7 linked regions of the Homo sapiens genome follow. The protein of the gene in region 1 purifies or fractionates together with the protein of each later gene. This does not show direct contact. Each region holds a gene or a part of one and is shown in the gene's direction. Other genes may lie near its edges. The genes, in order: RBM34, PRKRA, ZNF777, SDAD1, NVL, RRP8 and CCDC137.

Region 1 (3,500 bases):
TAGAGATGGGGTTTCACCATGTTGGCCAGGCTGGCCTTGAACTCCTGACCTCAGGTGATCCACCCGCCTTGGCCTCCCAAAGTGCTGGGATTACAGGCGTGAGCCACCGCGCCTGGCCCTTATCCCTCTTTCTGCTAATATAGACGTGCTCACGATTCTAATCTTTAAAAAGGACATTCCCCCTAACCGCCAAAAAAAAAAACCCATGTAATTGCATGTCTCTGTTTGCTACCATTCCCACAGTCCTTCCCTTCAGTCTAGCTTTTAAGAAAAGTAGTCTGTTCTTGTACTCTCTCCCTTCTCTTGATCTGTTCACCCTTCCACGCACTTGGATTCTGGTGGTGGTGGGTTTTATTCTCCGTCCTGACTGTGCCACTGAAGCAGTGCCCACTGAGGCCACCCTGACCTCTCATATGTAATGGGCAGTGCAGCTTTTGTCTTATGAGTCCTCTGTTACCTTTCACGTGGCTGCTTTTCTTGTTGAAGCTACCGGATTCTCTGAGAGAAATCTCTTCTGATTGTCCTCTTGCCAATTCTTTCTTAGTGTTACTGTGGTATCTTTTCCTCTGACTACTCTTTAAATGTGCATTTCCCTCAGGGGTCTCATTCTTGGTCATGTTCTTGTGACCCTTTGTCACCCTTTGTTGGGGGCAGTATCTCTTGTGCCCACCGTGATCTCTCTCCTGATCTCCAGACATGTATGTTTGTTTGCCTCCTGGCATTTGCACCTCTTTATTCCATATGTACCACCAGGTAAGAATGCTCCACTGGGAGCTCATCATTCTCATCAGTCCTGTTCCTTGGCATGAGCGCTACCACTAGCCTTCTAGTTGCCTAAGTTAGTGGCCCGAGAGTCATCCTGTCTTCTTTCCTCTCCTTGCTTAGCTAATCAGTTGCCGAGTCCTGATGATGCTGTTTTTTAATTATCTCTTTAATCTGCCTTTTCGTCTTCACCTCCTTCCCTGCTCTGGTCAGTCTGGTCAGTCTTCTCAGATACACACTGTTGTAACCATCTCCTTACTGGTCTCCCTTCTCCAACCTTATCCTCTTTCTAATTATCTTCCACTCTTCTGCCCAGATGATCTTTTTTAGATGCTCTCAAAGTCTTCAGTGTCTCCTCATCTTCAGTAGGATAAAATCTAAGCACTTTCGTGTAACACTGAAGGTCTCTCCTGACCTGGTTCCCACCTTACTGTACTGTCTCGTTTCCTTTCACACCTGCTAGGTACTTTATATACTGTAGTGAGCAAAACACTAGACATGGACCCTGTCCTCAGGGGAGGAGTAATAGCAGTCAGCTTTTATTGGACTATGTGCCAGACACTGATTTCCTCCTCTGAGAAGCCTTTCTCGTTTATGTTTGCATACCATGTATTATAGCTGTTACCATTTTATTGTGAACTTGGTCTGTCTCTTCACTGCACTGTTGGAGGCCTTTGATTGTTTCTTTATCTTTGTATCCTCAGAGCCTAGAACTGAGTAGGAACCCGGTAAGTATTTGCTGATGAGTGAGTCATTTTTATGATTCTTATTAGCTCTTCTCTTCCCTCACTCCTTAATATCCTTTAGTTCTCCTTTCAGATTGATGCTCAGACCTTGCTTATCCATATCCAGCAATACTTTATATTGTATTTACCGTTTCACAATTTACTTTTGGTAAGAGTCCTTTAAATATTACAGAAGTATTAGAAGTAGGGAATCTGGTTTTTCCTATCAGCCATATTGCTTGTACAGAGTAAGTACTCTGCTGCCATATTAACCTTTTTAGACTCTCAGGGAGTGTGATAGTGCCCCTAAAGGTCTAGAGTAGAAAATGAAATCAGGCATTGATAGAGTGTAAACTAAATCTCCAAGAGCTTTAAGTGAATCAGCTTTTGTATAGATGAACTTGCTGCTGCTGTTGCATGGCAGATTTAACGTGTTCAAAAATTGAGCTTCACTTATTCTTGCCAGGTGCAGTGGTTCACGCCTGTAACCCTAGCACTTTGGGAGGCTGAGGTGGGCGAATGGCTTGAGCTTAGGAGTTCAAGACCAGCCTGGGCAACATAGCAAAACCCTGTCTCTACAAAAAAATATAAAAGGAGACTGGGCGCGGTGGCTCATGCCTGTAATCACAACACTTTGGGAGGCTGAGGCGGGCGGAGCAAGAGGTCAGGAGTTCGAGACCAGCCTGGCCAACACAGTGAAACCTCGTCTCTGCTAAAAAAAAAAAATTAGCTGGGCTTGGTGGCAGGTGCCTGTAATCCCAGCTACTTGGGAGGCTGAGGCAAAAGAATCGTTGTGAACCAGAGAGGCGGAGGTTGCAGTGAGCCGAGATTGCGCCACTATACTCCAGTCTGGGAGACAGAGCTAGACTCTGTCTCAAAAAAAAAAAGTATATATGTATATATATATATATATATATATATATATATATATATATATATATGTATATGTATGTATAAAAGACTGGACATGGTGGCTCACACCTTTAGTCCCAGCACTTTGGGAGGCCAAGGTGGGCAGATAACTTGAGGTCAGGAGTTCAAGACTAGCCTGGCCAACATGGTGAAACCCCGTCTTTACTAAAAATACAAAAATTAGCCTGGCATGATGGCAGCCACCTGTAATCCCAGCTACTTGGGAGGCTGTGGCAGGAAAATCGCTTGAACCCGAGAGGCAGAAGTTGCAGTGAGCCGAAATTGCACTATTGCACTCCAGCCTGGGTGACAGAGCAAAACTCCGTCTCAAAAAAAAAAAAAAAAAGCCACGTGTGGGGGCATGCGCCTGTGGTCCCAGTTACTTGGGAGGCTGAGGTGGGAGGATTGCCTGAGCCTGGGAGGTTGAGGCTGCAGTGAGCTGTGATTACGCTGCTACACTCCAGCCTGGGTGACAGAGCAAGACCCTGTCTCAAAGAAAAAAAAAAAGAGCTTAACTTTTTCTAAATCTTGAGTTAAATCATTTTTTTTCTAAAGATACTAGTCAGTTTCTAGATAGCGCTGCTCTAAAAATTTTGATATATTTGTGAGTAGTAAATCTAGGAAAATTCAGAAGACATTGGGAAATATTTCTAGTCGGGAGGGTAGGGCTGTGCTTTGTCAAATACTAGACCTAACTGGCATGACTCTTACTGCTTATTTTATTTTTTGCCTTAAAAAGGGAAAGCGCTCTAGCGAGTGCTGATTTAGAAGAAGAAATTCACCAGAAACAAGGGCAGAAAAGGAAAAATTCTCAACCTGGTGTTAAAGTAGCAGATAGAAAAATACTTGATGACACAGAAGACACAGTTGTCAGTCAAAGAAAGAAAATTCAAATCAACCAAGAAGAAGAGAGATTAAAGAATGAGAGAACTGTGTTTGTTGGGAATTTGCCTGTTACATGTAATAAGAAGGTGAGTTTGTATATGGTAAAAGTTCAGAGAAGTTAATAACTTTGTTCTTCCTGTGTTGAATAAGCATTCAATAGTAAGTCATGGATATAACTTCATTGTAAATTATTACATAAATCATCCTAATATGAAT
Region 2 (3,500 bases), on another chromosome or scaffold:
GGTAGGAGTATAAATTGGTTCAGAAATCAGTTTGGAAGTATTTATCAAAATTAAAAGTGTACATGTTCTTTGACTTAGCAGTTCCACTTCTAGAAATAATTCTACAGAGAAACTCATTCAAGTGCAAAAGAGTGTTTATTGCTAGTAAAAGCAAGAAACTAGAAACAACCTAAAGCTCACAGTTGGAGATCCGTAAGGTAAATACAGTGCATATATGTGCACTGATAAAAGAAAAATGAACAAGATGTAGAGGAGTAAGTTATCATTTGCTTTAAAAGATTGTGTGTGCTTGCATATGCATAGAACATTTATGGGAAGATACTGAAAAATGTTTAACAGTATGTCTAAGAAATAGAACAGAGGTCTTCAGGGAATGGGTGGTAAGGAAAAGAGACTGTACTCTTCATTATATATTTGTTCTTAGTGCATGTATATTTTTAACCATGTAAATAGTGTTCTTTATTTAAAAACAGTATTTTAAAGTTTCTATAATGTAAATTTTTATTTGGTAAATCTAATAAATTACTTAATTCCATATCATGCCATCTCTAAAATCTTTTGGAAATTGCCTCCCCTCTGTCGTGCTCATTAATAAAACAATATTAAGAGTAGTAACCCTACTTACTTCAGAAAGTAGTTGTTTTTATTAATGGCATATGAAAGCAATTTGAGAACCATAAACTAATATGGAAATATAAGGCATTCTAAGGACAGAGATGAAAAGGGAAGGATATAGGGGAGGATAAAGGAAAGAGGAAAAGCAGAAAGAAAAAGGAAAAAAATACTCAGTTGGGTTCTGGGATAGAAGTCTGATAAGAACTTTTTGACATCCTGTCATTTATTTGAATGACTTGTTCCTCAAACCCAACGCGCACATTTCATGTTTTTTTTAGTTTTTTTTTCTGTTTTTTTTCCTGTTTGATAGCTGTCAGTTATAGTGATTGGTATTTAATACAAAAAAAACCAAAGATATGAAAATTGTTCTATATTTTAATCTGCAAATTGCTCCATTAGGCAGATTTAATTATTTGTGGATTTACTTATGGTGCTTCCAGATATCTTGTACCTCTTAATGTGACCATCAGAAAACTTGACTGAGAAACATTTGTACTATACAAAATACAAAATGCTTTCAGTATATTATTGCAAGTGCTTCTTAAAAACATATAGTATTGTTAAATGTGTACTTTTTAATGTTGTCTTGTTTAAATTGGAAAATTAACCAAATGTTATCCATTTAAACATGCTTTATAACATATTAAATGTGAGTGCTTAATAAGTACTTTTAATGATACTGGTACGGGTGTTGGAACCCAGTCCTAGTCAAGAGTCTAAATCTTCATCTCTGTTTTTCAGACAAATGTAGTAGGACATTCTTTAGGATGTACTTGGCATTCCTTGAGGAATTCTCCTGGTGAAAAGATCAACTTACTGAAAAGAAGCCTCCTTAGTATTCCAAATACAGATTACATCCAGCTGCTTAGTGAAATTGCCAAGGAACAAGGTTTTAATATAACATATTTGGATATAGGTATGATTTTTTTTTCTTTGGCTTTCCCAAGACATGTTTATTTAAAAATGTGTTTGAGGAACAAAAATGTGTTTGAGGAATAAAAATTTCTATTACAATTTATTTTATTGATCAGGGATTCTAAGTATATATAATTACTAGGCCAGTAATATATATAATTGATATGTCCCATTCTTGTGGATAGTAATAATAGCTAACATCTATACAGTTATAACAAAAACAACAATAGCAAAGATAGAGTTTTACTGTGTGCCAGACACTGTTCTAAGATTACACGTATCTACTTACTGAATCCTCAGACTAACTCTATGAAGCAAATTCTGTTATCCTTATTTATAAGTAAAGGAAGAAAGGCACAGAAAGGTTGAGAAACTTGCCCAAGATCACATAGCTAGTCAGCGGTAGAGCAAGATTTGGGGAAGAGTCCCAGAAGATACCCTGGCTGTTAAACTAGCCCTGCTGGGCAAATGAAAAGGCACCTACATTTCTAGCACAAGTACAAGTTTGTGGTGCCCAGACCTTTTCTCTCTACTTTGTCACTGTATGCTGATTCTGGGAGGTAAATGGAACCAAGTCAATTTATAGTTTTATCCCATCTCAGCCATCATCATCTGTATTTTCTCTAGCCCTTAATCATTTGGATAGACAAATATGGACAGATGGGAAAGCAAGTCAGTATGGATTTTCTTTTAATTCAATTTATAGAGCTAATTAGTTGTGTGTGTTTGGTGTCTTGATTTTTTTTTTTTTTTTTTTTTTTTGAGACGGAGTATTGTTTCTGTTGCCCAGGCTGGAGTACAGTGGCACAATCTCAACTCACTGCAACCTCTGCCTCCTGGGTTCAAGCGATCCTCCTGCTTCAGTCTCCCAAGAAGCTGGGAATACAGGCATCCACCACCAAGCCTGGCTAATTTTTTTTTTTTTCCCCAAGATGGAGTCTTGATCTGTTGCCCTGGTTGGAGTGCGGTGGCATGATCTCAGCTCACTGTAACCTCTGCCTCCCAGGTTCAAGCAATTCTCCTGCCTCAGCCTCCTGAGTAGCTGGGACTACTGCTGTGTGCCACCACACCCACCTAATTTTTGCATTTTTAGTAGAGACGGGGTTTCACCATGTTGGCCAGGCTGGTCTCAAACTCCTGACCTCATGATCCACCCACCTCGGCCTCCCAAAGTTTTTTTTTTTTTAGTAGAGATGGGAGTTTCACCATGTTGACCAGGCTTGTCTCAAACTCCTGACCTCAAGTGATCTGTACACCTCAGCCTCCCAAAGTGCTGGGATTACAGGTGTGAGCCACCGTGCCTGGCCAAAGTATCTTGATTTAACATGTGTGAGAAATTTTATATCCCTATCCAACCACAGAAAGATGTGGGGACCTTGCTTGTCAGGGTCCCCTGACCCTGGGAAAGTAGGGCACTTAGGGGCTCAAAGAACTCCTGATATTCTGTGCTACTTTGGGATTGAAGGACGGGTGAAGTGCATTGTCTCAGTAAACCAATAATGATGCAGAACCTGGGAAGTCAGTGCAGACAGATGGTTAGAAAAGGTGGCTGATGAAAAATTAGCTGGGTGTGGTGGCACATGCCTGTAGTCCAGTCTACTAGGGAGGCTGAGGTGGGGACAATGACTTGAGCCTCTGAGGTTGAGGCAGCAGTGAGCCATGATCATGCCGCTGCTCTCCAGCCTGGGTGACAGAGTTAGACTTGTCTCAAAAAAAAAAAAGAAAAGAGGCTGGAGGCCAGGTGCGGTGGCTCACACCTGTAATCCCAGCACTTTGGGAGGCCAAGTCGGGCAGATCACCTGAGGTCAGGCGTTTGAGACCAGCCTGACCAACACGGTGAAACCCTGTCTCTACTAAAAATACAAAAATTAGCCAGACAAGGTGGCGTGCACCTGTAATCCCAGCTACTCGGGAGGCTCAGGTGGGAGAATCACTTGAACCCGGGAGGCAGAGGTTGCAGTGAACCGAGA
Region 3 (3,500 bases), on another chromosome or scaffold:
ACTGTGCACATGGATCTCCCCGGGATCTTACTGAATGCAGAAGCTATTTAGTAGGTCTAAGGTGGGGTCTGAGCAAGTTACCTGGTAGCACCATTGCTGCTGGTCCACAGACCATGCTTTAGAGCTGCAAGAATTATATCCTGAAGGGGAGGAAAAGGATCCGACAAGACAGGCCCCTCACTCTTTGGGGCCAGGACAGTGGCCAGACTTCTAGAAAAGTCCTAGGTGAAGGCCCAGAGCCAGGAGTTTGGGCCTTGGGATTGGCCAGCCGTGGGCCTGTCACTGCCTTCCAGCGGGTCTGAGCCGAGTTATTGTGTGGTTTCAGGTCCCTGTCACATTTGATGATGTTGCTGTGCACTTCTCGGAGCAGGAGTGGGGAAACCTGTCTGAGTGGCAGAAGGAGCTCTACAAGAACGTGATGAGGGGCAACTACGAGTCCCTGGTTTCCATGGGTAAGGAGAAGCCTTCGCTCGCTGGGGGCTGCCTGGACGCCAGCTCAAAGTGCATTCATAAACTTAGGGAGTTCTGAACCCCAGCAGAGCCAATAGTTGCAAGCAAGGAGAACAGAGTTGTAGAGATCACAACAAATTAAAGCAAACGCCCTCATATACCCACACACATCAGTGCGGCCCAGGCCAGAATGGCTTGTAAATTGAGACCCCACTCTCAGAGAAGCTGCTGGGGCAAGGAGGAGGAGAAAGACCTAGACATCAGTGGTCTCTCCGTCATCATATTTTTCCCCATGGGGACCCCTTTTTAAATAAATTAGTTTGTCCAGCAAACTATTATTAAGGAAGGAAAAAAGAATGAAAGGAAAGTGTGCTGAGTGTCTCCTGTGTACCAGCCACATTTGAGGTGCTGTACAAGTATCATCTCCTTGGACCTGCACAGCCAAGATGTTGCGGAGGCTAAGACAGGTGTTCACACTCCTGTTCGATGATTCAGGTGCCTGAACACTGAGGCTGTGATCAGGGAGGTTAAATGCTTATTTCATGGAGATCTGCCTTACCCCGAAGTCTGTAGATTCTTGTGATTTTAATTAAGAATATTTAACGATGAAAACCTGGAAAAATATACTTTACTTACATATATATATGTGTGTGTGTATATATATCTGTTTCTCTGATATGGAGAACTTTTTGGGTATATACAAAAAAACGTTATCTTAAACATTTAAATGTGTTGTCACATAGAAACTTTGATTCCAGCTAGAATTGATAATTTTATACATACCTTTCCATAGGATACATTCCCTTCCTTTTAAAATTCTTTTTTCTTTTTTTAATTGTGTTTTTTAATTGTGAAAATTCAACAATTTAAATGATTTATATAATTAAGAGCAACCACCACCCATTCACCAGTACCACTCCCCAGAGGTAACCACCATGAACACTTTGGCCTGTGTTCTCTCTCATCTTTTTTTGCATGTGCAGATATAAGCATGATACATGCACTGAGGCACATGCAGTTTGGGGTTTGCACAGAGGGGCCCGTTTACTTATTTTACCTAATGTAGGGGGATAGAGAGTGTTCCATGTCAGCACACGTAGGACTCCTTGGAAAGACAGTGCAGTGTTCCACGTGAACCATTAGGGCTTTTGACCTGTCTGCTGTTGCTGAAGAGTAGGTTGACTGTTACAAAGTGTTATGATAAACATTTCTGTGTATTTGTGCACTTCTGTGTGTTACAGTAGGACAGATACTAAGAAGTGGGATTGCCAAGTAAACAGGATGCACATTTATAGTTTTATGGCTACTGCCTGGTGCCCTCCAGAAGGCTGAGCCAGTTGATATTTCTGCAAGGGTGTGTGAAAATGCCACTTCATACCCTGGCCTGAGCTGATGTTCTTCTATTTTAAATATTAGCCTTTTTTATAGGTGAAAAATGATACCTTATTTATTTATTTATTTACTTTTTTTTTTTTTTTTTGAGACAGAGTCTCGCTCTGTTGCCCAGGCTGGAGTGCAGTGGCACGATCTGGGCTCACTGCAAGCTCCGCCTCCCAGGTTCATGCCATTCTCCTACCTCAGCCTCCCGAGTAGCTGGGACTACAGGCACCTTCCACTGCTCCTGGCTAATTTTTTTTTGTATTTTTAGTAGAGACAGGGTTTTACCGTGTCAGCCAGGATGGTCTTGATTTCCTGACCTTGTGATCCAGCCACCTCGGCCTCCCAAAGTGCTGGGATTACAGGCGTGAGCCACACGCCCAGCCTACTTCATTTATTTAAATATGTATTCTTTGATGATTAGTGAACTTGTGCATCTTTTTTTGTTTGTTTGTTTGTTTGTTTGTTTTTGAGACGGAGTCTCGCTCTGTTGCCCAGGCTAGAGTGCAGTGGCGCGATCTCGGCTCACTGCACGCTCCGCCTCCCGGGTTCACACTATTCTCCTGCCTCAGCCTCCCGAGTAGCTGGGACTACAGGTGCCCACCACCGTGCCCAGCTAATTTTTTGTATTTTTAGTAGAGACGGGGTTTCACCATGTTAGCCAGGATGGTCTCGATCTCCTGACCTTGTGATCCGCCCGCCTCGGCCTCCCAAAGTGCTGGGATTACAGGCGTGAGCCACTGTGCCCAGTGAACTTGTGCATCTTTTTATATATTTATTGGCCATTCATATTTCTTCTATGAATTACCTATTTATAGCTTTGCAATTTTACTAGTTATAGAAGTTCTTTATGTATAACTATGGATATTAACCCTTTGCCATATGTCAAACATGTATATATATGTATAATATTTCCTCCAAGTTTCTTCATCTTTTAACTTTATTTCCAAAGAACTGCAGACTTATTTTATGTAAGAAAATCTATCGATATTTTATGGCTTTTAGATTTTTATCAGGATTAGTTTTTTGTTTTTTTCTTTTTTTGAGACGGAGTTTCACTCTTGTTGCCCAGGCTGGAGTGCAGTGTGTGATCTTGGCTCACTGCAACCTCTGCCTCCCAGGTTCAAGTGATTCTCCTGCCTCAGCCTCCCGAGTAGCTGGGATTACAGGCATCCGCCACCACGCCTGGCTAATTTTTTGCATTTTTAGTAGAGATGGGGTTTCACCATGTTGACCAGGCTGGTCCCGAACTCCTGACCTCAGGTGATGCGTCTGCCTCAGCCTCCCAATGTGCTGGGATTACAGGTGTGAGCCACTGCACCCGGCCAGGATTAGTTTTTTACCTTACAAAATTTCAAATATCTTCTGCCTTTATCATGAAAACCTGGGCAGGTTTTGACTACCTCTGAGCAACACGATCCCTCTACCCCCCGCCACACACACACACCCACACCCCCACACCCACAGTGGGCTCTTGGGAAAAGAAGGGGAGACTTGGCGGTTTTCCATTGTGGTCTCCAGTCGAGGAGCTGCTCCTGGAATCACGTGCCCACAGATGATACCTTAACAACATCCAGTGCAACCTCATCCCAGAGCATATTTTTTTCCCTTTCTTCTGCCTAGACTATGCAATTTCCAAACCAGACCTCATGTCACAGATGGAGCGCGGGGAG
Region 4 (3,500 bases), on another chromosome or scaffold:
TTACCATGAATGCCTTCATCCTGCAAAAAAAAAAAAAACAAAAAAAAAACAGTCTACCTGTCTCCCTTTCTAGGAAGTTCCCCTGACCTCACCAGGCTAAATTATGACTTTTCTTCCACCGAGCTCCCCTTGCTCTGTTATAATACTGTATGGCCATTTCTTGGTCCCAAGGAGCAAAGACTGTGTCCTGTCCATTCTGTGCCCTTGGCACCTAGTAGAGCTTCTGACACAGAGGAGACATTAATGTTGATTAGATGACTCCTAAAGTATGTTGTTGAAGAAGAAATATCAAACTTTTTGTTCTGGTAGGCTGGAAAGACAGACCGAAAAGAATTTGTGAGGAAGAAAACCAAAACAAATCCATTTTCCAGTTCGACAAATAAAGAGAAGAAAAAACAGAAGAACTTTATGATGATGCGGTATAGCCAGAATGTCCGGTCAAAAAATAAGCGTTCCTTCCGAGAAAAACAGGTGAGTTCCACTTGAAGCTTGGGTGGCAAGAACAGCACTGTAATTCCAAGACAGCTTTACATTTGAGACGGACTTGCGCCTTCTGAAGACTGGGCATTATTGTGTGTGTCTTGGGAGCATTGTTGGAGAGCATTGTTGGAGAGTTCCCATTAATGGGAGCATTGCTGGAGAGCATGGAGAGGTGAGAAGGATTCAGGGTATGTAAATCCCAGACCTGACTTGATTGAGACTCAGCTGTGGGACCAGAGGGGAATCCATTTTCCTCCAGTATAAGTAAAGGAATGCAAGCTAGATCATCCATGAGGTTCCTTCCCATGCTAAAATTCTCTGACATTTGATCTGTGAAATATAATATCAAAATTAATTGAATAACTTTTTAGTGCCAATTTTATGCCTGGTTTTCTGAGACAGGGTCTCACTCTGCTATCCAGGCTGGAGTGCAGTGGTGCAGTCACAACTCACTGCAGCCTCATGGCTCACTGCAGCCTCGACCTCCCAGGCTCCAGTGATTATTGCGGGATCTGGCCAGCAGCCCGCAATGCAACGGGGCTCTTTCTTTGTTCCCAAGTGGAAAGGCAGGTGGAGAAATAAAAGACACACACAAGATAGTGAAAGTTGGGTCCAGGGGGGTCACCGCCTTCTGGTCCTGCGATGCTGCCAATGCACTGGATATACCACCATTTATTATTAAGTTTAGTGAGAGTGGGCGTAGGTTAGTGAGGGATTTAGGGTCGTTTGATTATGAGGTGAGATGGTCACATGGGGATGAAGTAATTCTTTAACATAACATTGGTATGCAGAAGTACAGTATACAGAGATAAGAATTTACAATATAGTGTGTGCATCAGCAATTTCTAACAGAGCCTTAAAACAGAAACACAGTCTATCCATAACCTACGTTTAGCAAGATATTAATCAGCAGTAACAGTTGCAGCAAAAACTGGTTGTAAACAATCAATAGAAACAGGACGTGAAGCTAGACAACTGGTTAGACCACAAATTCTCAGAAGGTAGTATGCCTTACTCTTGAAGAGACCTACAAGAGCCGTGGCAAGATAAGGGCGTTTATAACCCTATCTTATCCATATGGACAGGCGCCCCTCATGCATCCATTTATAGGCTCTCCACAAGGGTCACATTCCATTCCCAGAGCTATGAACATCTGCTTTTCTGGGATAGGAATCTTGGTGATGTGAAACCTCCCTGACTGCACGTCCGTTCATAGGCTCTCTGCAGGGGGAAGCACATCATGTGCTGTTGGCTCATTCTGGCAGCCCAACCTGGCATTGTTTTTACACAATCTTGCATGCAATTTTGTATTTACAATAATGAGGAGCATTTCATCTTTTATTCTGTAGCAATAGATTCAGGGGGTCTCCCTACAAGTGATCCTCCCACCTCAGCCCTCCAAGTAGCTGGGACTACAGGCGTCTGCCACCACACCCGGCTAATTTTTGTATTTTTTGTAGAGATGGGGTTTTGCCATGTTGCCCAGTCTGGTTTCAAACTGCTGGACTCAAGCAGTCTGTCCACCTCAGCCTCCCATAGCGCTAGGATTATAGGTGTGGGTACTTTTCTCTTTTTTTTTTTTTTGAGACAGAGTCTCGCTCTGTCACCCAGGCTGGAGTGCAGTGGCGCAATCTCAGCTCACTGCAAGCTCTGCCTCCCGGGTTCACGGCATTCTCCTGCCTCCACCTCCCAAGTAGCTGGGACTACAGGTGCCCGCCACCACGCCTGGCTAATTTTTTTGTATTTTTAGTAGAGACGGAGTTTCACCGTGTTAGCCAGGATGGTCTTGATCTCCTGACCTCGTGATCTGCCTGCCTCGGTCTCCCAAAGTGCTGGGATTACAGGCGTGAGCTACTACCGCGCCTGGCCCCAGGCGTGGGTACTTTTCAAAACCCAATAATTTTGTGTGGTGATATCTCAGAAACAGTTTCAGAAAAGCAATGCAAAATAAATAGTGTGTTGGCATGATCCTTCCTGTATGTGCCCTTTTGAAAGCCCTGATGTTTACAGGCTTTGGGATTACATTTTATCCATTCATGGCCTTTGAATGGTAATCCCATGCTACTTAGGCAGCTCATTTATTTCAGTTATTCATTGTGATAAAACAAGTTTATGCTTTTGTATCTTTCTCTCCTTGTGGTGTAGCAGTGTATCTAAATATCATTCTGAAGAATTGCCAGGATATCAGCTCTGGGTTAAACAGTCTCATATTGTGAATCAGTGTTCCTAAATAGCTAGCCAAGGATCAGCCTGCCAGCACTGAATGTAACGGCCAGCCCTCTAGGGCAGTGCTGTGTCTGTGGGTTCCAAGTCAGTATTCACTGAATTAAGGTACCATTTAGCTCTCCCTGTTGACTCTTTCTAGTTCTAAACTGTGTTCAACAACATCATTTAAATAATGACGGCATTTTTAATAGAAGCTGTTGAAACTGAGGTGAAAGGAAAGGTGCCACTTAGGATTTTAAGTACTCTAAATTTTGCCACATTCTCCTAAAATTATAATAGGATTGACTTAAATCCATTAGTCTGTCCTTCACTGGCCCTTAACTAACATTTCAGGGTTGAGGAAGTATTAATTACCCTGTTGGTAGGCCTTGTTTCATTATAAGGTTTCTGTGAGCTTGTTATATTTTAGTTAGGGCTCCCCCCACCCCTACTTCCTTTGTTTTTTAGCATGCCTTTTCTGGCATGAAGGGAAAGCCCAGCTTTGTTCCTTTCAAGCACCTCGAGTCATAAAATAACTCTCAAAGATTGAAGAATCTTTTTGAGAGTAAATTAAGATTTCATTGGACATATGCACTTGTTGGTTCAAGAATGTTTTTTCTTGTTCTCCAATTTTCTTGTCATTTGGAACCTGATATTAATCAGAATTTCTATGTGTGTCCCTTTGCCCTGTATTTTCTTCAAGATCTCTTCATTATAAACATAAACTTTTAAGTTCCTGATTTTCTCTGTTCTCCCCTTTAGACCAGTACTGTTCAATAGAAATATAATATGAACCACATATATCACTTAAAAAT
Region 5 (3,500 bases), about 11 Mb from region 1:
GATGCATTTTCACCTCCACATAGCCTGTAGTAACATCAGGAAATCTGACATTTCTGCCTTCATCCTTCCTATGTTTGTGTTGTTACAGTTATTAGTTTTTCTTCATATGTTTTGAAGTAAATTTGTTTGTTAACTTTCCCAATTTGGGGACACAGAGGGAGGAAATGAAACTCAAGTTTAACTAACAGAGACAATGCCCCCTCCGGCTTTTTGTTTTCTTTTTTTTCTTTTTTTTTTTTCCATACAGGGTTTCCCTCTTTCACCCAGGCTGGAGTACAGTGGCATGATCATGGCTCACTGTAGCCTTGACTTCCTGGGCTCAAGCAATCCTCTGACCTCAGCCTCCTGGATAGCTGGGACTACAGGTGCATGCTACCATCCCCAGCTAATTTTTTTAAAAAATTTTTGTAGTTTTAGGGTCTCGCCATATTGCCCAGTCTTGTCATGAACTCCTGAGCTTAAGTAGTCCCTCATGCCTCAGCATCCCAAAGTGCTGGGATTACAGTGAGCCACCACACCCGGCCCTTTTTTTTTCTCTATTATGTCCTTCCAATGTAGCAGTGATTCTCAGTGAAGAGAAACTGATCAGAGTCTCAGGCAGGGGTGGTGAGGGGCAGATGTAAATGCCTCTACCTCCCCTTAAATAGGATGTGCCTCACCCCCTAATTAGGAATCAAATCCATACGAGTCTTTATTTAAATGATGTGGCCAGGCACAGTGGCTCACGCCTGTAATCCCAGCACTTTGGAGGCTGAGGTGGGCAGATCACTTGAGGTCAGAAATTTGAGACCAACCTGGCCAACATGGTGAAACCTTGTCTCTACTAAAACTACAAAAATTAGCCGGGCATGGTAGTGCACACCTGTAATCGCAGCTACTAGGGAGGCTGAGACAGGAAAATTGCTTGAACCCAGCGGGTGGAGGTTGCAGTGAGCTGAGATCGTGTCACTGCACTCCAGGCTGGGCAACAGAGCGACACTCCATCTCAAAAAATAAAAATAAATAAAATTAAAAATAAAGAAATGGCCTTATGCTTAGGAGACTACTACTTGAGTAGTTTACTGCTTTAAGGGTGGGAGCAGTGGCTCACACCTGTAATCCTAGCCCTTTGGGAGGCCAAGGCAGGCAGATTGTTTGAGGCCAGGAGTTCAAGACCAGCTTGGGCAACATAGTAAGACCCCATCTCTACAAAAAAAATAATAATAATACAGCTTTAAGTGCTCAAATCTGAAAAGATTTTCGGTGAGTAACAGGTGATTTTGGTGGCGGAACTTGCCCTGGGCTAAATCTTTTGGATATACCAAGTAGGCTATCAGTCTGTGAAGGGGTTAGGGCTAAAGTTGAATGGTGTACATTTTGGATTTTCATGCCACTATAATTACAGTTTGAGAGACACTACACCACTACAGTCTATAGCTATCTGCTTGTGTTAGTTAATGGTGTTTCCACCAATGTTAGATTTCATAGTATGGGAAGGAATGAATACCCCAGCAGGTATGTGATTATTAAATAATGTTATAACCCTAACATTTAGCCAACAAAACACCAGATTCAGTTAAAAATTTAAGCTCTGTGGGTCTTTACTTTTATATAGTATGTGTCTGAGGCAGGAGAATCACTCATACCCAGGACGCAGAGGTTGCGGTGAGCCAAGATCACACCACTGCACTCCAGCCTCGGTGACAGAGCAAGACTCCATCTCAAAAAAAAAAAAGTTATATAGTATGGGGATTATCAACATTATATAATAAGTTTAATGTCCAGAGATGAGGTTTTTTAAAAAAATTTATTTTTCATTTTCATCTTTTCTTTCCAAGACTTGTGAATCATAGAAGTGATGTTTTTATCCCCAAACTCAAACTCTTTCTCATATAATCTCTAAGAACCCTGTTACAGCTGTAATGTAGTGAAACTCCAGTCAACATGAGTGTCTTTCATTGAACTCAGAACTGTGCTGACTCAGCATATTATTACATGAACTAATTAAATAAGTGAAGGCCTGTTTTGTATTTGTCATATTTTAAGTAACTTATGATGTGTTCATTCAGTTTTAACTTGAATCAGGTGCATTAAAGACTTTCCAGGGTTTGTATTTTTCCCTTCTGAACTTGGAGCCACAAGTGACTTTTTGGGGGGTTTTCTTGAGACAGGGTCTCACTCTGTCACCCAGGCTCACTATAGCCTTTGCCCCCCAGGCTCAAGCAATTCTGCCATCTCAGCCTCCCAAAGTGCTGGAATTACAGGCATGACCCACTGCGCCCAGCCCATAAATGACTTTTTAATAAGCTTACTTTAGACATTATGTAATACATGAATATGCTAGTCAGCACTTTAGCCCTTTATGCATTGTATTGTTTCCTCCATAATTTCCTTTCTTCTTGAGTTTAGTTTTTTTTTGTTTTTGTTTTTTAATTGGGACAGAGTCTCACTCTGTTACCCAGGCTGGAGTGCAGTGGTGCGATCTTGGCTCATTGCAACCGCCACCTCCCGGGCTCAAGTGATCCTCCCACCTAAGCCTCCCCAGTGCCTGGGACTACAGGTGCATGCCACCATGCCCAGCTAATTTTTTTGTAGTTTTGTAGATATGGCATTTCTCCATATTGCTGAGACTAGTCTCAAACTCCTGTTCAAGTGATCCACCCACCTCGGCCTCCCAAAGTGCTGGGATTATAGGCGTGAGCCACTGCACCTGGCCTAGAAATATCTTATATAAAAGCTAAGAGCTCTTTTCTATTGATTGATAATCAATTTATTTCTCATCTTTATTGGTCACTTTTTCTCCTGATTATTTAATATATGACTTATATGAAAACTGTTTTCCGGGTTTTTTTCTGGGATTTTGCAGTATCTAAGAATAAGTAGATAACTATTATTTTATTGTAGGGGCGCAGATCTCTCTGCTTTGGTACGAGAAGCTTCTATCTGTGCCCTGAGACAGGAAATGGCAAGACAGAAGAGTGGAAATGAAAAAGGTACAATTCTCTCCAGAATCTCTCAATTCTAATTATGATACTTAAAACCACTGTTGCCCTGGAAAATGACCATTTTCTAGTGTCTATTATCTATGATATTAAAGCTAACGTTTTTCTAATAAGACTGTTAGAAGCTGTTCTGAAATATTAGGTAACCTCTGTTGCTGACAATTATAATAATAGCAAAGTTATTTAGTACCTCTCTAATAAAGAGTACTGTCCCTATAGGCAAATGGATCCATTCGCTGTCTTCATCATGAGTCTGGGCTGCTTATCAATTCTGGAAAAACGTATTCTTTTGCTAAGGTGATATCTACTTGCCTGTTAAAATGCAGCCTAAATTGGAGAGCTTAGAAAATACACAAGAGAAGTGAAATTTGGAATAACTTTCCATATGTTGAGACTTTCCTTTCAAAATATAAAATCTGTGTATTGTGTTATGTGATGCTTTGGGGCCATCTCAAAAGCTTTGCACCATCCTTCACATTTGACAGTGTCTTTAATGTTATTATTTGAGTGCATATGGGG
Region 6 (4,242 bases), on another chromosome or scaffold:
TTCCCAAGCCAGAACCCTGGTCCTCATCTTTGCCCTTACTCACTCCCCACACCAAGTTCCACAATTCTTCGTCCTAAAGACTTCTGGAATTTGATCACTTCTCTTTTTCACTCACCCTAATTCTAGTCCAAGACATCATTACTTCTACGATGAACTAGGCAATTGCCTCCTTTCCACCTGCTCTTCACAAAGCATCCAAGACGATACTGAAAAATGGACAATCTCATTATGTCACTATACAGCTTTAAAACCTTGCTTTTAAAATAAAGACCTTCTTATAGCCTAAATATGCTTGCATGATCTGGCTGATCCTTGGAGACCTCTACAGTCTTATGTCCTGTTCTTTTCCTCTTGTACCCAATGCTCCGACCCACAGAGATCATCTATCCTCCAGCCATATGGAACTCCAGACAATTTCCTGTTCTCTCTGCTCTGTGCCTTGCCCCCTAGCCTTTGGCCATGCAGTCTACTGAGGCTGGAAAGCTCTCTGTAGCCTCTGCCTGTGAAACTCTTATTCTGCAGTCAAGATTCAGCTCAAACTGCGTCCTCTGTGAAAACCCTCTGCCCCCCACAGGCTATGCTTAGCACTCATTACACTGGCTAGCAAAGGCAGCCGCCACCACCAGACATGAGCACTCCACTCCACGTAGCCAGGAGATCTCTAGCCTTCCTCTCATCCACCAACCGTTTCAGCTCACCCCTGGTTGAGGTCGTTCTCCGTGTTGTCCAGCCACAGGCGAACGGCGACTGCGTTGCCCTCCCGGCACTGAGTGAAAATGTCGTCCATAGCAGCGTCCCGGCGCCGAGTCCCCTGGATTGGGGAAGCCTGAGGACTGTGGAGTGATCCAGGGAAGGAGGATGAACCCCAAGCTTTATCCTCTACAGGAGAGAAGTGTTTGTGTTGGGGGTAGGGGGCCTGAGCTGCGTCCCCGGCTAGTGGGGGTCTGTGAAGGAGTTCGGGGCTGCGGGATGATCCCTGGCTGTGTCCTCTAGACGCGAGGTAAAGGCGGGTCAGGGTGGGCAGGGGGTGACGAAGAGGTAGTGTCTGCTGAACGGATGTCCGAGAGCAGGCAACTAGACCCTATCCGCGAACAGAGTTGGGGGAAGTGGGGAGGTTCAGGCTCCGTATACTCTGGGAGAGGGGACCGGGGGTCCTCCCCAGGGTTGGCTCCGTTCCTTACTTGGGACTCAGGAGAAGTGAGGGGTGACAGGGGGCGCGGGTCCTCTCGCACTCACCGGGACTCGGGCTGCAGGATCCTTCTCCGGGGAACTCCCGTCCGGCCGCGCCCGCAGCCCGCCGCCGGCCCCGCCCCGCCCGTGGCGCTCTTGGGCAGCGCGGGCCTCCGTCCCTCCCCTCCCACCGCCTCCCTGCCCTTCTAGCCGCGCCTGGCTAAACTCGATGGTTCGCTGCGCCGCGCCGGCCGCTCTAGCAACCCCTGGCTGTCACGCTTTGGTTTCCGGGTCGGTTCTGGCAGGTCTGAGCGCTCCGACTTCCAGAGGAGCGCTGTGCACGTGGAGAAGAGCGGGGACTCGGCGACCCTGCCCTCCCGACCCTCATGTTCGAAGAGCCTGAGTGGGCCGAGGCGGCCCCAGTAGCCGCGGGCCTTGGGCCCGTAATCTCACGACCTCCGCCTGCGGCCTCCTCGCAAAACAAGGTGAGTGACTCGCGGGAGCAATGGGAGCTGTTTCAGGCCGCGAAGCGGACATTGGTGGATCCCAGCGCTGTGTGTATTGCGGGGAGGGACACCTGTGGCACCGTTAAGGGCGAGTCCTGATCTGAAGATCCGAGAACTTCCAAAAGAAACTGACGTTGGGTCAGAGAGAGTTGTTGAGTAGAAGTTGGTGAAGCGAAGAGGGTTCTTCAGACAGGAAAAAGTACGTACAAGGGCCCTGGGACAAGAGAGCATGTTCTGTCAGAGTCACAAACACAAGTGGTCCTTGTGGTTGAAATACATAGTAAATGAAAGGGGCATATATGCTGTTCAAGTTCAAGAGGTAGAAGTTTTGCGTATATTGAGAATAGAAGCCAATGAAAGGTTTTAAGCAATGGAATTATTTCTTCAGATTTGTATTTTGAAAGGGTCGTCGGTTACAGTGTGGAGGATGGATTGGAGACAGTAAGAGTTGTCAGTATCATTGTTCAAAGGAGGGTGTGGGAAACTTAGAATCAGGGTAAGTGCCTGGCCTAGGATTACCTGGTAGGACTGCAACACAGAATCAGCCTTCCCGACAATACATCTTCTCCTTTGAGCCTCTGCAGATGTGAGGGCCCTGCTTCCTCAGGCTTTTCTTACCCTTCAGTCTGCCTCCAACATGGAATCGGCCTGCTTTGTTTCCTCCTTTTTCATCCCCTAGCCCCATTACCATTGTCCAAGCCGCTGGCCTCTCTGTCTGCAATTTCTCCCCTTCAGTTTGTTTTCTACACTGCAGCTAGAGACATGTTAAATATTTAATATACGTGTGTGATCATGTGTCTCCTGTGTTCAGAAGCCTCCTTACCTCTTACAGAAATGTATCAGCTCTAGGCAAAAGCTCAAGGTGAAGGGTTGGAATTCCTGGTCTCTGGCCTTGGTCTTGTTGCTTGTGGCCTTTGCATTTTCCTTTGGGGAAACCTCCATTAGCTCATTTACACATTGAAGAAAGTGGGATAGGTGGTTTCTCTGCTCTCCAGCTTCCCAGAAGTTGGGGTGGTGACATAAAAGTTCTTCTGGGTTCTGGCAGGCTTGACTGGGAAGAATTCAGATGCTTCTGCCAGTCTGAATCAGGTCCACATCTCTCCCTTCTTGTTCTCCAGGCCTCATCCATTCTCTTTAGGCCCACTGTCATCCCCTGTTTTCCTCCAGGGCTCCAAGCGCCGCCAGCTCTTGGCCACATTACGGGCCCTAGAGGCAGCATCTCTTTCCCAGCATCCCCCCAGCCTATGTATAAGTGACTCTGAGGAGGAGGAGGAGGAAAGGAAGAAGAAATGCCCCAAAAAGGCATCATTTGCCAGTGCCTCTGCTGAAGTAGGGAAGAAAGGGAAGAAGAAATGTCAAAAACAGGGCCCACCTTGCAGTGACTCTGAGGAAGAAGTAGAAAGGAAGAAGAAATGCCACAAACAGGCTCTTGTTGGCAGTGACTCTGCTGAAGATGAGAAAAGAAAGAGGAAATGCCAGAAACATGCCCCTATAAATTCAGCCCAGCACCTGGACAATGTTGACCAAACAGGTACCATTGGATGTGTATATGTGTGTGTGTTGGTGTGTGTGTGTCGGGGGGTCAGCTGGTTCTACATACAAGAGTGATTATCCACTGCCATTAGGATTGGGGCTAATGGTGTACTCAGGCAATAAGAAGTACTTCTCTGCAGGCCACAGTCACGATCTCAAAGACAGAGGTATGGCTGGGATGACTTGCCGTGACTCCGAATGTAAGAGATCTTGCCTCATGTGCACCTTCCCATCTCCCTCCCTGTAGGTCCCAAAGCCTGGAAGGGTAGTACTACAAATGATCCACCAAAGCAAAGCCCTGGGTCCACTTCCCCTAAACCCCCTCATACATTAAGCCGCAAGCAGTGGCGGAACCGGCAAAAGAACAAGAGAAGATGTAAGAACAAGTTTCAGCCACCTCAGGTGCCAGACCAGGCCCCAGCTGAGGCCCCCACAGAGAAGACAGAGGTGTCTCCTGTTCCCAGGACAGACAGCCATGAGGCTCGGGCAGGGGCTTTGCGAGCCCGCATGGCACAGCGGCTGGATGGGGCCCGATTTCGCTACCTCAATGAACAGTTGTACTCAGGGCCCAGCAGTGCTGCACAGCGTCTCTTCCAGGAAGACCCTGAGGCTTTTCTTCTCTACCACCGCGGCTTCCAGAGCCAAGTGAAGAAGTGGCCACTGCAGCCAGTGGACCGCATCGCCAGGGATCTTCGCCAGCGGTGAATGGGGGTCAGGGACTGTGAGAAGCCATGTGGTGGGTCAGTCATAGGCTCAGATCAGACCAATATGTGACCCTTGCCTTCCACTCTCAGGCCTGCATCCCTAGTGGTGGCTGACTTCGGCTGTGGGGATTGCCGCTTGGCTTCAAGTATCCGGAACCCTGTGCATTGCTTTGACTTGGCTTCTCTGGACCCTAGGGTCACTGTGTGTGACATGGCCCAGGTAAACCCCTATGTTATCTGGCTTGTGCTCTAGGGCCAACCTCCGTATGCTAATCTCTAACCCTTCCTTCCCCTTTCCCATCCTGGTATCTCAGTGCTGGCTTTCTTCT
Region 7 (2,332 bases), on another chromosome or scaffold:
TCCTCCAGACACGGTGAAGTTTGGTGAGGTTGTCCTGCAGCCCCCAGAGCTGACTGCCAGGCCCCAGAGGAGCGTAAGCAAGGACCAGGTAAGTGGGGCACGGGGACAACTTGAGTTTGTCCCCCAGTGCTGCCAGGGAACAGAAGCCTTGGACAGGCTGGACACGGTGGGTCACACCTGTAATCCCAGCACATTGGGAGGCCAAGGCAGGCGGATTGCTTGAGCCCAGGAGTTGATACCAGCCTGGACAACATAGCGAGATCCTGTGTCAAGAAAAAAAAAAACCCTCAGCCAACGTGTGCGCTGTCTGGTGTGTGGCCTGAGAGTGCAGTGTTCTCGCTGGCGGGAGAGCTGTTGAAGCTGTGAGGCTTTCTGTTGCATCCCCTCCTTTCCCAGCCTGTGCCTCACCCTCCCCTCTCTCCCTCAGCCTGGCAGGAGATCGCAGATGCTGCGGATGCTTCTGAGCCCCGGTGGTGTGTCCCAGCCTCTGACCGCCTCCCTGGCCCGCCAGCGGATTGTGGAGGAGGAGAGAGAGCGGGCCGTGCAGGCCTACAGAGCGTTGAAGCAGCGGCAGCAGCAGCTGCACGGGGAGCGACCCCACCTCACTTCCCGGAAGAAGCCAGAGCCGCAGCTGTGATGGAGAGACACCCGGGGCCTGGCCACGCTCTGGGGCAACTGGCACCAGGAGCTGCTACACCTGGGTAGGAGAGAGGCAGGCCATGCCAGCAGTGTGGGGTGAGGCCTCCAGCTACTTGTTCACACGTTGGGCACTAGTGGGTCCACATCTTGCAGGGGGTGAGTGCCCGATGGACTAGGGCCAAGGCCTGGTTGACAGACGGCCCGTGGGGCCCGGTGTCACTCACAGCTCCATCTCTTTGTTTTGAACGTCCATTCTGAGTCTCAGCCCAGGTGGACCTTAGGAAGGGCTGGATCCCTGTCCCTGAACACCAAATACCGAGACAGCTGATGAGGCTGGCTCAGTGTGTGACGGAGGCCCCCGGGAGTCAGCAGAGCCGAGCGTACAGTGCACATCAGGCAGAGCAGGCCACGGGCAGGGACGACGCATCGGGACAGGGCTCTGCAGGGGACCGTGACTACAGGCCAGCTGTGAGTGGTCCCCTACAGAGGCTGCCCACCCAAGGTTTGGTTGGGGTGAAACATGATGACAACACATACACTTAAGAAGGTGGGAACCGGGGGCCGGGCGCGGTGGCTCACACCTGTAATGCCAGCACTTTGGGCAGCTGAGGCGAGTGGATCACCTGAGGTCAGGAGTTCGAACCAGCCTGGCCAACATGGTGAAACTGCATCTCTACTAAAAATACACGAAGAAAAAAAAAACAGTGGGAACAGAGTTGTCACCTACCTAACAGGGCTCTGAGAGAGCCGGGAGGCCCAAAGTGGCTGGAAGAAGGTAAAGGAAAAATCCTGTCTTGGGCTCAAGGTCACAGAGTGGGGCCCAGGGGGAGTTCCTGCTGAGGGCAGGGCCTTGCCAGGCTTCAGTCTCCAGTGCCAAAGGAGGAAATGCCCAGGCTGTCAGCATTTCCAGATGAGAGCAGAAGGGAGAAGCTTAAACCCAAGTCACACATCCAGCAATGGAGTCCGACAGCCCAGCACCATCTGGGAACTGAGAAGCACCTCTGCCCGGCCCCCACACCGTGTGGAAAGTGAGGAGCACCTCTGCCTGGCCGCCACCCCGTCTGGCAAGTGAGGAGCGCCTCTGCCCGGCCGCTGTGCAACCTTCCAAGTGTGAAGTGACAGCCTTGTGTGTGATGTTTTCTGCCTTCCCCAAGTTTGCACTTTCGACATTAAAGTTTACTTTTTAGTTAAAAGTTTTAAATTGGAGAATATATATTTAAAGTCAGGGCTGTTTTCCTCTTATGGGCATGTTTCCCACCTTGTGATGGACCTGGCGGCCCCAGCCCTCGCGTTGGGATGTTGTTTTTGCAGCAGCCAGAACTCAGCCCCAGATCACAAGCAGCAGCTGGAAGGGGGTGGCCTTTCCCTGGGAAAGGGCTGGGACGGCAGCGGGTGGCACTCCCACTCGCTCAATGCCTTTGGTTTTGGGTGTCAGATCGGCCCGTGTATGGCTAAGCAAAGGGATCCCACAGGGCTGGGAAAGCGCTCATGCTCTCCACTGCATCCATGATTCTCAGGTTTTAGCTGCTGGAAGGGAAACCCCTGGTGGTTTTTAGGGCCTCTTTGTTGCCCAGGCTGGGGTGCAGTGGCATAAGCACACTGCAGCAAGTTGTTGGGCTCAGGCAATCCTCCCACCTCAGCCTCCCAAGTACTTGGGACAACAGGTGCTCACCAACACACCCAAATAATTTTT

What was found.
Region 2: the proteins of RBM34 (region 1) and PRKRA purify together in Homo sapiens (affinity purification with mass spectrometry; 3 studies listed by BioGRID and IntAct, with this or other methods). This does not show direct contact.
Region 3: the proteins of RBM34 (region 1) and ZNF777 purify together in Homo sapiens (affinity purification with mass spectrometry; 2 studies listed by BioGRID and IntAct, with this or other methods). This does not show direct contact.
Region 4: the proteins of RBM34 (region 1) and SDAD1 purify together in Homo sapiens (affinity purification with mass spectrometry; 2 studies listed by BioGRID and IntAct, with this or other methods). This does not show direct contact.
Region 5: the proteins of RBM34 (region 1) and NVL purify together in Homo sapiens (affinity purification with mass spectrometry; 2 studies listed by BioGRID and IntAct, with this or other methods). This does not show direct contact.
Region 6: the proteins of RBM34 (region 1) and RRP8 purify together in Homo sapiens (co-immunoprecipitation; 3 studies listed by BioGRID and IntAct, with this or other methods). This does not show direct contact.
Region 7: the proteins of RBM34 (region 1) and CCDC137 purify together in Homo sapiens (co-immunoprecipitation; 3 studies listed by BioGRID and IntAct, with this or other methods). This does not show direct contact.

Annotation. Positions count from the first base shown.
Region 1 is NC_000001.11:235,154,751-235,158,250, reverse strand, and holds part of RBM34 (RNA-binding protein 34), read left to right. Parts: exon of another isoform or gene 1-1,585; coding exon of another isoform or gene 1,586-1,656; intron 1,657-3,138; coding exon 3,139-3,370; intron 3,371-3,500.
Region 2 is NC_000002.12:178,434,176-178,437,675, reverse strand, and holds part of PRKRA (interferon-inducible double-stranded RNA-dependent protein kinase activator A), read left to right. Parts: intron 1-1,356; coding exon 1,357-1,531; intron 1,532-3,500. UniProt on the Homo sapiens protein: Activates EIF2AK2/PKR in the absence of double-stranded RNA (dsRNA), leading to phosphorylation of EIF2S1/EFI2-alpha and inhibition of translation and induction of apoptosis.
Region 3 is NC_000007.14:149,451,063-149,454,562, reverse strand, and holds part of ZNF777 (zinc finger protein 777), read left to right. Parts: intron 1-325; coding exon 326-452; intron 453-3,450; coding exon 3,451-3,500. UniProt on the Homo sapiens protein: May be involved in transcriptional repression. Inhibits cell proliferation through CDKN1A/p21 induction by down-regulation of NIBAN1/FAM129A at low cell density.
Region 4 is NC_000004.12:75,952,946-75,956,445, reverse strand, and holds part of SDAD1 (protein SDA1 homolog), read left to right. Parts: intron 1-309; coding exon 310-471; intron 472-3,500.
Region 5 is NC_000001.11:224,232,673-224,236,172, reverse strand, and holds part of NVL (nuclear valosin-containing protein-like), read left to right. Parts: intron 1-2,883; coding exon 2,884-2,972; intron 2,973-3,200; coding exon of another isoform or gene 3,201-3,232; exon of another isoform or gene 3,233-3,500. UniProt on the Homo sapiens protein: Participates in the assembly of the telomerase holoenzyme and effecting of telomerase activity via its interaction with TERT. Involved in both early and late stages of the pre-rRNA processing pathways.
Region 6 is NC_000011.10:6,600,817-6,605,058, reverse strand, and holds the start of RRP8 (ribosomal RNA-processing protein 8), read left to right. Parts: upstream 1-1,442; 5' UTR 1,443-1,556; coding exon 1,557-1,655; intron 1,656-2,843; coding exon 2,844-3,207; intron 3,208-3,456; coding exon 3,457-3,910; intron 3,911-4,003; coding exon 4,004-4,133; intron 4,134-4,242. Other genes in the region: scaffold protein ILK, read right to left, coding at 699-787.
Region 7 is NC_000017.11:81,672,068-81,674,399, forward strand, and holds the end of CCDC137 (coiled-coil domain-containing protein 137), read left to right. Parts: intron 1-8; coding exon 9-88; intron 89-427; coding exon 428-637; 3' UTR 638-1,832; downstream 1,833-2,332.